Linked DNA regions of Homo sapiens: region 2 is linked to region 1. Evidence: fine-mapped expression QTL. A gene starts in region 1. The other region holds a variant in brackets. All regions are shown on one strand. Distances are from middle to middle.

The links.
Region 2: its variant is fine-mapped to the expression of LDAH in whole blood (TOPMed, PIP above 0.99). The same link has a PIP of 0.9 or more in monocytes.

What each region holds. Positions count from the first base shown.
Region 1 is chr2:20,821,940-20,824,849 of GRCh38, reverse strand. It overlaps LDAH (lipid droplet associated hydrolase), which reads left to right and starts at 1,749. Exons shown (of 7, transcript NM_021925.4): 1 at 1,749-1,813. RefSeq lists enhancers at 1,566-1,955, 2,176-2,245, 2,048-2,873.
Region 2 is chr2:20,681,065-20,683,974 of GRCh38, reverse strand. It overlaps a transcript of LDAH not described here. Among named protein-coding and RNA genes, the nearest start is that of GDF7, 15 kb to the right of the region's middle. The variant T/C (reference allele first, on the strand shown) is at 1,509.

The DNA.
Region 1 (2,910 bases):
AGCCAATATATAACCTCCATATATTGATTTATGACTTTGCCTATAACCTCTGACACCCCTGCATTTAAAAACCCTTACCTATAAACAATTAGGGAGTTCAAGACTTAAGCACTAACTGACCAGTTCTCCTTGCTTGGGACCCTACAATAAATGCCTCACTTTCTTTCACTATAATCCTGATGTCAGTGTTTGGTCTTGCTGCACAGGCAATTGGACTCCAGTTTGGTTTGATAACAGCTCTTGAGAGATTGGAAAAGAGAGAGTCCCTGAGAGAGTGGGTTGTTTTCCACCTCCTGTTTGGTCTGTTTTCACATGTATCAGCTTCCCCTTTGACCTTCTACCATGTTGTGACACTGCACAAAAAACTCTAACCAGAACTGAGCAGATGCTCACACTATGCCCCTTGAGCTTTCCAATGTGCAGAACCATGAGCTAAGTAAACCTCTTTTTTAAATCCAAGCATACTTTGAAGATATTGGGGGTTCAGTTCCATACTACCACAATAAAGCAAACATCACAATAAGGCAGTTCACAGAATTTTTTTGGTTTCCCAGTGCATATAAAATTTATATTTACACTGTACTGTAGATTATTGTGTACAACAGTATTATGTCTAAAAAAAGTACATACTAAGAAAAGAAAAATAGCCCAGAGCTGTCTGAGCTATGTGAGGTATGCAAAATTTATTAGACCCGGACAGAAGTGAATACTGGCTTCCGCCACGCCTTCCCATGCCTTAGGGCAATTGTTAAAGGCATTTTGTTCTTTATTAGCTGCCTCACCCATTATCTTTATGTTCCTGGAATTTGTGATACAAGGAAGAAAGCATAGCCAGTCAATAGCTTAAGTTTTTTAAATATAAATTCTTGGTAAACAAGTTAAGCTCTGCCTCCTCTCCTTTCCTTAAAAACCGGCTCACGCCTGTAATCCCAGCACTTTGGGAGGCCGAGGCGGGTGGATCATGAGGTCAGGAGATCGAGACCATCCTGGCTAACAAGGTGAAACCCCGTCTCTACTAAAAATACAAAAAATTAGCCGGGCGCGGTGGCGGGCGCCTGTAGTCCCAGCTACTCGGGAGGCTGAGGCAGGAGAATGGCGTGAACCCGGGAAGCGGAGCTTTCAGTGAGCCGAGATTGCGCCACTGCGGTCCGCAGTCCGGCCTGGGCGACAGAGCAAGACTCCGTCTCAAAAAAAAAAAAAAAAAAAAAAAAAAACCTACTCCGACTGCTGCTAATTGGAGTGTATATTCAAGGCAACTTGAATCTAAGCTCCTGAGTGGCCATTCTCAAGCACTGAGCCCAAATAAACTCTATACTTAATATTATTCTCTGAATTTTCTTAAAGTTGGCAACACCTTAATTAAAAAAATACTTTATTGATCATGCTTATGAACATGATCAAATGAGAATCAACTTTCCTGTGTATGTGGGGAAGATATGCAACTAGTAACGCAGAAAGAGGGAAATGGGAAGAGGGAGAAAAGAGGGGCAGACATGGAACAAATGAGAGAGAAGGAAAGGGAAGCCAGAAGCCAGAAGCACATCAAGGATGACAGAAAATAAAAGGCGGATAAAATTCAAATGAAAAAGAAAGGAAAACCCCGACACCCTCCAAGAGGTCTCTCTGATCTGGACCACCGGCTCCAAGCCAGTAAGAAATCTCCCAGCCAGCTGTGCGCCGCGCGCCAGGCTGACATCGGCTTCCCGGATCAGCTCCGGCGCGGTACTGTGACGTCACCTGAGGGGGGCACTTCCGGTCTCGTGCCGCCTTCCCAGGACCCTCAGGGAGAGCGGGCAGCCTTCCAGGTGGACAGGTGAGGTACAGCTTGCCGAGCTCAGGGTGACTGCCCAAAGGAAGGACGGGTGGGCAGGCACGCGGGATCTGGCGCCCCTTCTTCTCTATGGTTCCTCGCAGAGCCCCTGTTGCCCTGGGCCAGATGGCCCGTAGCAGCAAAAATAATACTGTTCCGACAGCTCGCGAGTTCGGAGCCACTTGGCCTGGGAGTCCCTTGAGTTGCAGGCCGGGCAGTCGCTCACCCGAGCGCGGTAATGCAGCATTTGAACCCCTAAGTGTAGCCCACCTGTAGGGAGTCTTATGGTGCCCCCGCGGAGGAGTAGAGGCCAAAAAGTTGGGCAGCTGGCCGGGAAGAACTCGCTAGGAGGGGTCAAACTCTGGGCCGGGAGTGTTCTTTGCCCCCGGCGTTTAGTGCTCACGCCGCCTTTTATTCACGCTGAAGACCTTAACCGTAAACCCTCATCCTTGGGTCTTAGTTTGGTTTTGTTCCCCACGCAAGACAGAATGCAGATTGGAACACTTTATTCCTTGGTTAATTCGTATCTTCCCTCGCAAGTAGTTACCGGACACCTGCTTTGTGTCCTGTGTACCAAACACAAGAGTTGATAGTCCTGGCCGGGCGCCGTGGCTCACGCCTGTAATCCCAGCACTTTGGGACCCCGAGGCGGGCGGATCAGGAGGTCAGGAGATCGAGACCATCCTGGCTAACACGGTGAAACCCCATCTTTACTAAAAATACAAAAATAAATACATAAATAAATAAATTAGCCGGGCGTGGTGGCGGGCGCCTGTAGTCCCAGCTACTCGGGAGACTGAAGCAGGAGAATGGCGTGAACCCGGGAGGTGGAGCTTGCAGTGAGCCGAGATGGCGCCACTGCACTCTAGCCTGGGCGACAAAGTGAGACTCAGTCTCAAAAAAAAAAAAAGAGTTGATAGTCCTTGAGTTGAAAGAACAAATCTGTATGGAGAAAGAGATACAACCAAAAGAAACCCAGAAGATTTAGAAGCATCTCCAGAATGTTTATTCTCAAAAGCTGTTTTTTAATTAAACTTCTTTCTGAAACTATACGTAGGAGTGTCTCTTGTGTGTTTCCCCATTTTTCCACCTGAAGGTTA
Region 2 (2,910 bases), 140 kb after region 1:
TCTTGTACGCAGTAAATGAAGACCTGGGTTCAAATCCCAGATCTGTCATTTGTTAGGTTTGTGACATAAGACTTCACTTCACCTCCCTGAGTCCCCCAGCTCCTCATTTTTTTTTTAATGGAGATAAAATGAGGTCATGCATATAGCATTTAGTATGTTGCCTGGCATATGGTGGATTCTCTATAAAATGGTACCTAAAGGAGGATAGCAAACTTGTTTTTCCTTTTTTCCTTTCATTTCTCTTCTCTTTAGTGTAGCAGAGGACCCTGTGGTATCTCAGTCCCTGCACTGTTTCACCAGGCTTGTAACTTGATTCTAGCAGTCAGCATTTTGGCTCTTACGCAGGGATAACACTTGCTCACCTGGCTCAGCTTTCTGGCCTCAGCCCATTCAGGCCTCCCTGCACACAGCCCAGGATGTTCTAACAGTCGATTTAGAAAAGATGCGGGAAGCAAAGCATTTCTTAGATGGCTTGAGACATCTTCATCCCTGGCCTTCTCTTGCAGAAGAGAAGAGGCAAGGATATATTTGGGCTGCTCCTTCCCTTAGGGGTGGGCCTTAAGGAGAGGTTGGAGGCTGGGACTGAGTGTGCTCTGTGAACAAATACATCTGTGGGACCTTGAATGAAGCTCTTCTGCAGGAGTGCTGAGGACAGCAAAGCTCATATGAGTGTTCTTCTAATCACTTTTTAAGAGGATTGAGATTCCTGCCTGTGCCCCATACAGACATGGGTAAGTGATCACATTGGCCCAGGTGAGGAGTGTCTGTGGGACATGGGTCTGGCCTCTCCCACCAGGCTGAAGGCATCTCTAGAGCAAGACCGGCGTCACTGAGTGTGATGCTGGGTGAGCATCCTCAGAGCACGAACGAGGGTCAAAGAAAGCTCTGGGTGGTTCTATGGTTCTATAAAGGGTTCTATAAAGACAAAGCTCTTGGAAGAGAGAAGAGGATGAGGTTGCCCCTAGTCCTAGAAGGGCAGGTAGAACTTGGATAGGTGGTTTGGAATAGATGAGAGCTAATCCAGATAAGGAGTATGCTGCTCACCCCAGCACCTTCACAGTGTCTCACTTAGGCCTCCCAATCCTGTGATGTTCTGACTATGCCCATTATACAGATTACCACTGAGGTGCCTTGCTAAGGACCTCACAGTTAATAGATGACAGAGCTGGGGTTCTCCTGTAGTTGCACATGTCCTCCAAAGTTCGTGTGTTAGAGACTTAATCCCCAATGCAACTATTGGGAGGTGGGTCCTAACAGGAAGTGTCTGAGTCATGAGGGCCCTTCCTTCCTGAATGGATTAATGCCAGTGATAAAAAGCCACAATATTAGGCTGCAAGTTTGATCTCTTGTTCTCTCATGCTCTCTTGCCCTTCCACCTTTTGCCAGGGAGGATGTAGCACAAAGGTCCTCACCAGATGCCAGCCCCTCAATCTTGGACTTTCCAGCCTCCAGAACTGTAAGAAATAAATCTCTTCTTTATAAATTACCCAGTCTCTGATATTCCATTA[T/C]AGCAACAGAAAATGAACTAAGCCAGATTCCAATTCAGGCCTCTACTCCAGAGCCACCACTTCATCCCCTTTTTCCACTGCATCATGCTGCCTCCTGGAGGCCACAGTGGGCAAGCCTAGCAAAAGTGGAGAGCCGGGAAAGAGAGTCACGCAAAGGGCAAATGAGGACCCGATTGACAGAAGAAGTGACGAGTAGATCGTTGGTAACAAATGAGTAGTTTTAAAAGAATGAAAGCTATAACAGAGACCAGTTTTCAGACGGCAAAAATATGCATCAGGCAGTGGATTGAGAGAAAGCAAGCCCACATGCTGGGAGTCAGTGCTGTGGCTGCAGCCACATGGCCGGCACCTCTGCAACTCTTCCATAGCCACCTGGTCTTATGCCACGCACGGGAGCTTCCTGTGGACTCCTCTGTACAGGAATCACTGCTCCAGCTTTGATTACGCCCATCCTCTACCCCACCCCATGAGACGTGGCCTAAAATACCAACTGCTCCTGCCTCCCAGAGCGGTCCTTCCCACCCTTCCATGCCCTGCCAGTCTTCATGACCCCTGGCCTGGCCTGTGTCTACTGAATGACTTATCATTGCTGCGGGATTGTGTCTCTGCAGTCTGCTCCTCCCTGCCTCCACCAACACCCCTTCTCTCAGGAGAGTCCTAGAAGATGACCTTCTGTCTTAGTCATCTCTGTGCTGTCAGGGCATATCAAATATGGCCTGCTACACAGGGTAGTCTATAAATTTTGTTATCTAAATTAATAAAAAGTTTCTACCATACCTAATAGGCAAGCTGTGAAAAAGTGCAATTCTCACATTGGGTCGGACTACCAGGAAATCACATCTCTGGGCTTCTTCATCTTAAAACTGACACATCAGTGGGAGTGCAGACATGGACACTTGCTCTTTTATCCCTTAAGTGTTTCCCCAGCAGAGCTGTGCACAACTGGGTCAGATAGATTCAAGGATGTCTGAATCTTTGCAGACTGTTTGTGTCTGGCACTGGGGGACTGCAAGGAAGCAAGGCCACTATCCCTTGTGTCCCATTCATCTTGTCTGATATGGCTGCAACTGTTACTTCCATTCTTCTACAATTAGAAAACCTCTGGAGTTTGGGTATTAGCAACTACCAAATATGTAGTTTATTATTTGCTGAGCACTAACCCCGCGCAGCACCCCGAGTGGGAATTACAGCAACAATACACATGACTGTGCTCTGGGATAATCGAGCATTTTCATTTTGTGTTGCATTCCTCAAACATTCTGGCAAAGGGGCCTGTGCTGACCTCCCCACATTGGGACAGATTTCCTTGCTGGGTAAGTCTATGGGAAAATTCCTCTTCCCTGGGATGAGAATGTGACCCTGTGACTGGGCGTCCATTACAGCCAGGGGGTGCGGTGCACCT